Linked DNA regions of Homo sapiens. The protein of the gene in region 1 interacts with the protein of each later gene in a biochemical or structural test. Each region holds a gene or a part of one and is shown on either strand. Other genes may lie near its edges.

The links.
Region 2: the proteins of SNTG1 (region 1) and DMD form a complex in vitro, tested with the Homo sapiens proteins (one study listed by BioGRID).

The regions. Positions count from the first base shown.
Region 1 is NC_000008.11:50,656,209-50,663,516, reverse strand, and holds part of SNTG1 (gamma-1-syntrophin), read right to left. Parts: intron 6,609-7,308; coding exon 6,492-6,608; intron 4,926-6,491; coding exon 4,854-4,925; intron 1-4,853. UniProt on the Homo sapiens protein: Adapter protein that binds to and probably organizes the subcellular localization of a variety of proteins. May link various receptors to the actin cytoskeleton and the dystrophin glycoprotein complex.
Region 2 is NC_000023.11:31,118,514-31,122,649, reverse strand, and holds the end of DMD (dystrophin), read left to right. Parts: intron 1-719; coding exon 720-731; coding exon of another isoform or gene 732-817; 3' UTR 818-3,428; downstream 3,429-4,136. UniProt on the Homo sapiens protein: Anchors the extracellular matrix to the cytoskeleton via F-actin. Ligand for dystroglycan.

The DNA.
Region 1 (7,308 bases):
CTACTGTGAGGGCACTATCTATTCAGGCCCGACTCCTCTGCCTCTCTCCTCCTAGCCCGCTGTCCATGCCCTGGTTGACCAGAAGATGTCCCAGGAGCACTCCCCTCTGGCCCCTTCATCTCCATCTCACGTTGCATTCGAAGAGGATTTTTAAATGGGCAACCTCAGTCCCTCCCTATGCTTGACATGCTTTAGTGGCTGTCCTTTGTTCCTCAGATAAAGTTCATGTGCTTTATTAAGGCCTTTTCCTATGATCTGTTCCATCCAAACACCAACACCAACCTCATACCCAAGATGACTACAGCTGTAACAAACTTGTTTGCCTTGTTGAAGGGACACATACTTCTTTGTAGCTCTGGGCAAGTTTATACATTATTCCTTGGACCAGGTTGCTCCTCCCCTCCTACTGGCTGGACTCCAACCCCTGCCATGACACATCTTCCTCTGTGGAGCCCTTTCACAGTCACTTAGGTTTCAGTTCATTAAAAGCCTCCTCCAAAATGCCCTTCCTAAACTCCTTCATCAGCTGGAATTTTTGTGAGTTCAACTCTCTTATACTGTTGTATTTATCCTTAATACCTAGTGGAGTGCTTGGCACATAGAAGGTACTCGAAGTAACTGATATGAATTAACAGACAAAAATGCATTCACAAATCAGTTAACCAATTCCTAATCTTCACAGCACCCTCTGCATCCATAGCTGCATTTCACAGATGAAGAACTGAAGTTCATAGTGCCCAATACACTCATAAAGGGTAATGTTTTAGTAACAGAAGTGGCATTTGTTGCCAAATTCCTTTTTCTGAAACCTTTGCTCTCTCATCAGTACCAGGCTGGCTCTCTGGTTCCCATCTTTTTTCCCAAATTATCAATATTTACGCTGAGAGACAGAGACAGTGTAGTATCATGTGCAAGAGCACAGAATTTTGACACATTGCAAGATTCATATCTTTAGCTCTGATATTTACTAGCTGTGTGACCTTAGGCTATTTACTTAAACTGCTTTTTGCCTCAGTTTCCAAATCTCTAAAATGGGAATAACAATAACTGACAGATAGTGGTGCTGTAAATACAAACTGAATTCATATACTAAGCACTTAGGACAACACCTGGCACATACATATAAACTATATGTACCAGATAAACCTTATTGCTTCATTTTTGTTATTACTGGTGTAGCTTCATTATGAACACATCAGAAGGGACAGGATTTTCCTGATTAATGGTCACAGGCAAGTTCTTCTGTGATCCAGACATTCAAATCTGACTTTTAATTAGCCTCACCTGAGGGATCCATTTTCTGGAGGCAGAAGTCTACAACTTGCACAGCTTGCATCAGAAGTGATACCTCATGGCAGGAGAGGGCTGGGCTGTAGAAGACTCCCCCTCTGATTTAGGCTGTAGAAGATGCCCCTTCTTATTTGCTCACCTGCCCCACCTATCTGACTGGCTTCCTTATCAACCAGTGATCCTGACACAGGAGAAGGCCAGAAGGTAATCTGCATGCAGGAAAATAATCCATTAGCATCGAATCTAGAAGCCACTCCTCTGTTCTCATGCTACATGAAATTTTCCTTTGGGAAAAGGAATGCTTGAAGGATGGCTTTATATGTCTAATGTCAAGCCACAAAGCATAAAGCACCAGCATTGTACTTACTAAGGGGAGGGGGACTTCCTTGATTACATACAACAATTGAAGGTAGATTTACATTGTATTTGATGTATGAGAATACTTATCGCCAGGCCTCACTAACCTATGTAAACATTTTCCCAAGTAGAACATCACACACCAGGGCCTGTTGGGAGGTTGGGGGCAAGGGGAGAGACATCATTAGGACAAATACCTAATACATGCAGGGCCTAAAACCTAGATGATGGGTGGATAGGTGCAGCAAACCACCATGGTACATGTATACCTACGTAACAAAACTGTACGTTCTGCACATGTATCCCAGAACTTGAAGTATTAAAAAAATTCAAGTAAACTAAGGCTTATAGAAAATTGTATATAGAAAGTTAAAATGAGAAGTAGTCTTTGATTTTAATTTGGTCAGAATGTAAATATACAGGCACTCTCATAGACACTTCTGATGGCCGCATAAGTTAAGATGACTTGTAGGAGGCAATTTGTACACATGGATTTAATATCTTGAATACATTAAAATATTTTTCCACATGGGGTTTCCAAAGCTCAGAATTTAGACTAAAGGAAATAAGAATTTGCATAAAAGTCTGAGCAAATATCAGTCCTTCCTACATATTATTATTTTGTCTCATTTATTTACTTACTATTTTTGTCTTCTTTATTGATTTACTTAACATCATATCACCTAATAAAATGCAAGCTCAATGAAAGCAGTGGCTTTTTCTGCATTTTTCTCAGCCACATAACAAGTGCTGAGGTTACCTGGTATATAGCAAACATTTAATTTTCTATTAAACCATTCAAATAATGATTGTTGTGATATGCCTGATAGCAATAACAAGTGGGGGAAAAAACTAAATGTAAAATTTTAAAGTGGACTCAATGAATACAAGCAAATGATGGGATAGATGAAATCTATCAAAAAGTTATCAGTGTTTTTAAGGAACATTAACTGTCATAGAAAAAAATCTCAAGACATATTTTTACACAAAATAGCAGATCATGAATTGCATAATCTTTGTCAAAAATTGTAACAAAGAGATAGAACATATTGTTTGTATATCTTGATAGAGCTAAACATAATGTTTATTATTTCCTTTAAAATTATCCTTTTTAACTACTATAGTAAACTGCATTATGTTCTAATGTTTAAATAGCTTTTTTTAAAAGAGAGGATTTAAAAGATCATGCAGCTACTTGGAGAGTGGTTAGAAAATAATTTAAGTCTAAGTAAGAATATATAAATATGTGTTGCGTTATTACTATGATAAAAGTTGTATTAGTGTACAGATAGAGAATAGACAAAGTTGATTTGTTGAGGCAGTTTTCTTTCCTTCCTTCCTTCTCCCTCCCTCCCTCCCTTCCTTCTCCTTCCTTCTTTCCTTTCTCCCCTCTGTGCACTCCCTGCCCTTCCTCCCTTTCTTTTTTCTCTTTCTTTCTTTCTTCTTTCTTTCTTTCTTTTCTTTCTTTCTCTTTTTCTTCCTTCCTTCCTTCCTTCTTTCTCTCTCTCTCTTTCTTTCTTTCTTTCTCTTTCTTTCTTTCTTCTTTCCTTCTTACTGTCTCTCTTTCTTTCTCTTTCTTTCTTCTTTCCTTCTTTCTCTCTCTCTCTCCTTCCCTCCTTCTTTCCTTCCTTCTTTCCTTTTCTTTTCTTCTTTTCTTTTCCTTCTTTTCTTTTCTTTCTTTCTTTTCTTCCCCTAATTACATGAGTAGCTTTCCTAAAAATACACAGTTCGCCCTGGCGCGGTGGCTCATGCCTGTAATCCTAACACTTTGGGAGGCGGAGGTAGGCAGATTGCCTGAGCTCAGGAGTTCAAGACCAGCTTGGGCAACATGGGGAAACCCTGTCTCTACTAAAATGCAAAAAGTTAGCTGGGCATGGTGGCATGTGCCTGTAGTCCCAGCTACTCAGGAGGCTGAGGCAGGAGAGTTGCTTGAACCTGGGAGGTGGAGGTTGCAGTGAGCCGAGATCACACCACTGCACTCCAGCCTAAGCAACAGAGCAAGACTCCATCTCCAAAAAAAAGAAAGCTATCTCATTAGCCATTTTGGCAATTATTTCAGAAAACTGGAGTCGTGTATGATCTCCTTTTCCTCAGATACTAGCCTCTGTTTAAGAAATTGTCAGACCCTTCTTTACTAACAATACACTCAAGTATTTCAGGTTGTCCTTCCACCATTACGCCTACAGAAGAACTCAAAGCATGCACAGTGATGAGCAATCAATGAACTATACTTTTGGCTGGATTTTGCACTTCAGAGAACTTCAGCTTTAATCCAAAGTTCTCTATAAGGAACAGAAACTATAAACAATTTTGAGGTAATTATAATTTTTGTCTCTCTGCCTTCAGACACTTTTGATGCATTTTATTATATTTTAAATGTTTCAGCATTTTTCTACTCTGCTAAGTCTTTAACGGGAAGAGAAATAGCTAACATAAAGCAAAGGGAAATTAGCTCCCCTTGGATACAGAAACAAGGTCAACCTTATGCAGGAATTTAATTATCAATCTGTGGTGAGTCCAAGCCTACAAACCCTAAAGTAGAAAGTGAATATATATTAGTCTTCATGTTTTATAGGTTATTCCAATTTTAATTCTTTAAAAAACGCTATAGAAACCATGTGACATTTTATAGAATTTGTGATGGCTTGATATTGTAATAATCCTGCATATGGCATGAAATTCAACTGATATATGACAATCGAATGTTCTTTTACATATGCAAAAAGATGGTCAAGCCATGAGATTAAGAACAAAACAGCAAAACTTTTCTTTGCATTTTTCCTGATATTTTCTATATTTTCTAATTCCAGGTCTCACCCAAATCTTTCTCTTTTGCATTTTATTCAGAAAAAAAGAATTAAAAAAAAAAACATGGTAACAACCAACGTTTAAATTCAGACTACTTTCAACTGAATTTTCTTCTTCCCCAGTGAACTCCTGAGGAGCTTCTCCCTGTTCCCTCACCCACGGTGGGACTGCAGAGTCTGCTTGCAAGTTATTTAAGCAGATAGCTGAGTGCCAGTGCACTTCTGTGCATTCTATATTTTCTCTTTTTTGTCCAGTTTATTTTCTTTCTCTTTCATTTGTCTTTATCGTGTCTCTTCTTTCATTCCATGAATGATTTGTTTTCATGAGCTGCTTATGAGCCCAGAGGCACTATTTGCTGAGGAAAAGCCATTCAAATACTGACTACATATTGATCATACCTTGAGGATCTTGCACATAATCTCATAAACTGAGAATGTTTTCTCTGCTCTCGTCCAGTCCCAGGTGGTCACCTTTAAAAGATAAGAAAATAATGTTTAATTTGTTTTAGAAAGTTATTTACCACTGTATTTGATTTGCATAATATAGTGAAAAATAAGAAAAAACTTTCACAGATGTATCTAGTCTCTCATCTGTGAAGCCATGCTCATAAAGGACCCTACATAATGCTTTTGTTTCCTCTTTTCCAAGCTTTGTTACCATTTGTCTTATGCTTTCAGCAAATGATTTATATTATGTGCAACAGTTCTCATTTGCCCAGTGTCCTTATATATCTTAAATAATATACGCATTCTCTACCTATAAATACTAAGTATTTACATTCCACACTCATATTTTTTTTTTAATTTACCACTAGTTAAATACAGAGAATACCAGACCTCAACACAGCTATATTTTTTAAATATACATCATTTATATTAAGAAATTCCAAGATGACTGTGACATTGCAAACATACCCAAAGCATAATGCAGTTATTTCACTTACTTAGGTTGGAAACTATATTTAACTGTCTTGTCAAATAAATTATTCAGAGTAGGAATAGAGTAAAATATATAAATATCAATTTTTCCTCTGTCTTCCTAGTGCTTTAAACTTTGTGTAGAGACAGACATTTAAAACAGCAGCAAGTTAGACCTGATGATTTCTAAATCTTATGTATTATTAGACCTGCAAGTGACTGGTCTGGCATTTGGTATTTATATTCAATAAATATTTATTAAGTGTCTTCTGAGCTGCAAGGTACATGTTTCCAAAAGCAAGACTTGAGGTGCAATAGGTATCTATACATATCTAGTACAAATCTCAATAACTAGGATATAGAATATAATAGAAGATGAAAATGTTATTGATTTTATATAGAGAGACCTGTACAACATAAATAAGCAAGTTCGACTTGTCATAAATGATAGCTTACCAGAATGTATTTGTGTTGTTTGCCAAGGATAGAATCCTCTAATTTAAATGTTGAACACCATGAGAGTTAACATCATCCTATGGGATTACCATAGGGTGAGATAGACTTAATAGTAGCTAGATAAGATGCTATCATTTTGAAATTTCCTTATTATTCTTTGCTAATAATAAATTACTAGTAATTAAAAGTGCTGAATAAATTTAAAAGAACTTTCAAAAGATCCTTGGAAAATAAGAGTTTAGTAAACATGTTCATTCATGTATAGCCCTAAAACAGTTTATTCTTTTTTATTTCACTTTTGATATATTCATTTCTTTAATTTTTATTCCATAAACAAAATACACTGACATATGCTTGAAAATGTTTCTTAAAATCTCCTTTCCCATGTCGTCATGAGATTTGTAATGGCATTATAATTTGATCCATTATTTTATAGGTTCACTATTTATAAAGAAGTAAGTTCCAGACTTTTCAAGGGTGTTAAAGCAAATGTTTAATGTCAGAATATATATTTTAGTAAGTTAAATCAGATAAACTGATTTCTACTTTTTCTCTATATTATTTTTTAAAAATATTGATGGTATACTATTTGGTGCTGTTAAGTTGGTGTCAATCTCTTGTGATAATATGGAAACGACCAATACATTTCAATAAAACACGTACTGGAGGTGCCAGAAACTTGTAGAGACATGAGCCCCTCAGGGCCAGGAAGGTCGGGGAGTACACTCTGTCCTGGAGGGGGTCTTGCTCCCGGGCTTCACACCAGCCCATGTAGACAATCTGCAAGAAAATGGAATACAATCAACTGTCAAAACTTCTTATTTTAGATATCTTATATCTAAAAATATTTAGATGCAAATATTAAAAATATTTTAGGTATTTTTCATGTAGTATTAAAAACTCACATAAAATTATCAAATTGATTGATGCAAAAAAGTACATTAAACCAGATTTGGCTTCAGTAAATGAATGTAAACCTCTCATAAGAATTTCTTATACGTTTCTACCAGCATTTATCAAGTGTTTATGCCATCCAACCTGCCATGGATTATATTTCCCACTCTATCAATTCTTACAGAAAAAAATACTTATTTATAATAGAATTCATTGATGCATCGCACTTGTTTACCAATTACTGACATTTTATTAATTGGGAATGTGCTTTAATACAGAATGTTGAAGTGAGTAAAGAAAGCAAATCAGATAGACATCTTATGGCAATACCACTAGGGCGGCACACCACTTCTCCTCTGTGCCTGATAGGGGAGAATGATAAATGCCCTCCTTTTAATCATTGATCTTAGATGAATACAATTTATGCTAGTGTATTCATATATCAAATGGCATTGAAATCAACTCTTTAGCCTCTAGTGCTTAATAAAGGCAGATCGATTTCCAAACAAAGATTTTGTGAGATGAGCCACTCCTCTTTTTATGATCTGATTTTCTTGAGAGTCAAACATATACACAAACACTTAAC
Region 2 (4,136 bases), on another chromosome or scaffold:
TGGAATGTAAAGCAATTTTTATTCTGAGGTTTCCTAATTCAAATGTTAATAGTGCACCAAAAGGTCAATTCAAGAGTTTATTATTATTATTTTTCAACCCAAGTAAAAGCAGAGAGAAAATAGCCACCTCCACCATAGCCTCAGAAGCAAGCCAACAGCCTGAAACAGCTTTGAAATGAAAAGTTGGTGTGGCGGTGATGGTGGCAGTGATAATGGTGACGATGGTTGGGTGCTGGTGATGGTAGTGGTAGTTGTGAAGGTGGTGATGGTGGTTTGATTGATAGTAAAAAAAATGTTCGTTAATACAAGTAGAGAGTAAGTAATCAATCAATCACTCATAGCCAAGGTGGAAAAGATGTATCCCATCATGGAATATTCCTGTTCTGATAGAAATCTTGTGCTTATCTATGGAATTCTTTTGATATATATTTACATTGGGAACCTGAATGTAGCTTGACATTTTTCCATGTAAACACCAGTAGCCTGATCCAACATTAAGCTGATACTAACAAACAACGTGTAATGGCTTCATTAATAAGGCTTTGCTTCTTCCTGGAAACTGGTGAAAAATCAAACCTTGTTGTGTACACCCTCGATGCAGCTTCTGTGTTGTCTTCACCCAGAAATGGGGAATGATTTCCCAAATGGCAAAGAAACAGAGTGATGCTATCTATCTGCACCTTTTGTAAAGTCTGTCTTTCTTTCTCTTTGTTTTCCAGGACACAATGTAGGAAGTCTTTTCCACATGGCAGATGATTTGGGCAGAGCGATGGAGTCCTTAGTATCAGTCATGACAGATGAAGAAGGAGCAGAATAAATGTTTTACAACTCCTGATTCCCGCATGGTTTTTATAATATTCATACAACAAAGAGGATTAGACAGTAAGAGTTTACAAGAAATAAATCTATATTTTTGTGAAGGGTAGTGGTATTATACTGTAGATTTCAGTAGTTTCTAAGTCTGTTATTGTTTTGTTAACAATGGCAGGTTTTACACGTCTATGCAATTGTACAAAAAAGTTATAAGAAAACTACATGTAAAATCTTGATAGCTAAATAACTTGCCATTTCTTTATATGGAACGCATTTTGGGTTGTTTAAAAATTTATAACAGTTATAAAGAAAGATTGTAAACTAAAGTGTGCTTTATAAAAAAAAGTTGTTTATAAAAACCCCTAAAAACAAAACAAACACACACACACACACATACACACACACACACAAAACTTTGAGGCAGCGCATTGTTTTGCATCCTTTTGGCGTGATATCCATATGAAATTCATGGCTTTTTCTTTTTTTGCATATTAAAGATAAGACTTCCTCTACCACCACACCAAATGACTACTACACACTGCTCATTTGAGAACTGTCAGCTGAGTGGGGCAGGCTTGAGTTTTCATTTCATATATCTATATGTCTATAAGTATATAAATACTATAGTTATATAGATAAAGAGATACGAATTTCTATAGACTGACTTTTTCCATTTTTTAAATGTTCATGTCACATCCTAATAGAAAGAAATTACTTCTAGTCAGTCATCCAGGCTTACCTGCTTGGTCTAGAATGGATTTTTCCCGGAGCCGGAAGCCAGGAGGAAACTACACCACACTAAAACATTGTCTACAGCTCCAGATGTTTCTCATTTTAAACAACTTTCCACTGACAACGAAAGTAAAGTAAAGTATTGGATTTTTTTAAAGGGAACATGTGAATGAATACACAGGACTTATTATATCAGAGTGAGTAATCGGTTGGTTGGTTGATTGATTGATTGATTGATACATTCAGCTTCCTGCTGCTAGCAATGCCACGATTTAGATTTAATGATGCTTCAGTGGAAATCAATCAGAAGGTATTCTGACCTTGTGAACATCAGAAGGTATTTTTTAACTCCCAAGCAGTAGCAGGACGATGATAGGGCTGGAGGGCTATGGATTCCCAGCCCATCCCTGTGAAGGAGTAGGCCACTCTTTAAGTGAAGGATTGGATGATTGTTCATAATACATAAAGTTCTCTGTAATTACAACTAAATTATTATGCCCTCTTCTCACAGTCAAAAGGAACTGGGTGGTTTGGTTTTTGTTGCTTTTTTAGATTTATTGTCCCATGTGGGATGAGTTTTTAAATGCCACAAGACATAATTTAAAATAAATAAACTTTGGGAAAAGGTGTAAAACAGTAGCCCCATCACATTTGTGATACTGACAGGTATCAACCCAGAAGCCCATGAACTGTGTTTCCATCCTTTGCATTTCTCTGCGAGTAGTTCCACACAGGTTTGTAAGTAAGTAAGAAAGAAGGCAAATTGATTCAAATGTTACAAAAAAACCCTTCTTGGTGGATTAGACAGGTTAAATATATAAACAAACAAACAAAAATTGCTCAAAAAAGAGGAGAAAAGCTCAAGAGGAAAAGCTAAGGACTGGTAGGAAAAAGCTTTACTCTTTCATGCCATTTTATTTCTTTTTGATTTTTAAATCATTCATTCAATAGATACCACCGTGTGACCTATAATTTTGCAAATCTGTTACCTCTGACATCAAGTGTAATTAGCTTTTGGAGAGTGGGCTGACATCAAGTGTAATTAGCTTTTGGAGAGTGGGTTTTGTCCATTATTAATAATTAATTAATTAACATCAAACACGGCTTCTCATGCTATTTCTACCTCACTTTGGTTTTGGGGTGTTCCTGATAATTGTGCACACCTGAGTTCACAGCTTCACCACTTGTCCATTGCGTTATTTTCTTTTTCCTTTATAATTCTTTCTTTTTCCTTCATAATTTTCAAAAGAAAACCCAAAGCTCTAAGGTAACAAATTACCAAATTACATGAAGATTTGGTTTTTGTCTTGCATTTTTTTCCTTTATGTGACGCTGGACCTTTTCTTTACCCAAGGATTTTTAAAACTCAGATTTAAAACAAGGGGTTACTTTACATCCTACTAAGAAGTTTAAGTAAGTAAGTTTCATTCTAAAATCAGAGGTAAATAGAGTGCATAAATAATTTTGTTTTAATCTTTTTGTTTTTCTTTTAGACACATTAGCTCTGGAGTGAGTCTGTCATAATATTTGAACAAAAATTGAGAGCTTTATTGCTGCATTTTAAGCATAATTAATTTGGACATTATTTCGTGTTGTGTTCTTTATAACCACCAAGTATTAAACTGTAAATCATAATGTAACTGAAGCATAAACATCACATGGCATGTTTTGTCATTGTTTTCAGGTACTGAGTTCTTACTTGAGTATCATAATATATTGTGTTTTAACACCAACACTGTAACATTTACGAATTATTTTTTTAAACTTCAGTTTTACTGCATTTTCACAACATATCAGACTTCACCAAATATATGCCTTACTATTGTATTATAGTACTGCTTTACTGTGTATCTCAATAAAGCACGCAGTTATGTTACAAAAAAGTATTGACTGGACTGCAGTACTTTGTTTTTATTTTAATTTAGTTGTTGTTACTTACTTACTTACTTTTTAAATAGGTAATACATGCATATGAGTAAAAAACTATAATCCAGAAAGACAGTGAAAACACTCCTAACTACCCCTTCCCCCATATCAATCAATCATCCTCATTGCTCTATGAGTAGACATTATTAATTTCTTATTTAGTCTTCCAGAGGGTCTTTCTTTATTAATTATTATATAAGCAGTTAAAATAATATATATGTTCCTATTTATTTTTTTCCTATTATTATTTCATAGGATATAGCATTCTCTGCACCCAGTTATGCACCTTACTTGTTTGTTTGTTTAAATTTAAATATGGACTCAAGAAATCTTTTCATTTAAATATATAAAATGCTTTCTCATTCTTTTTTATAGCTGTATAATATTTCATTATATGTTCATAGGATATTTTATTTAAGCAGTTCCCTTTGGTGGGATATGTAGTCTGTTGTCAGTCTTTCTTTTGCTATAACAAACAATATTGCACATTTCTCATTACATCATTTCATTTGTGCATAAACAAACAAATCTGTGGGATACTTCCTAGAAGTGAGATTGCTGGATCAAAGGGGGTAAGCATTTGTAGACTGGGAGATGATACATTTTGTGCAGTGATTGATTGATTGATAGTCATAGTGTTTGTTTGTTTGTTGTGTTTTTTGTTT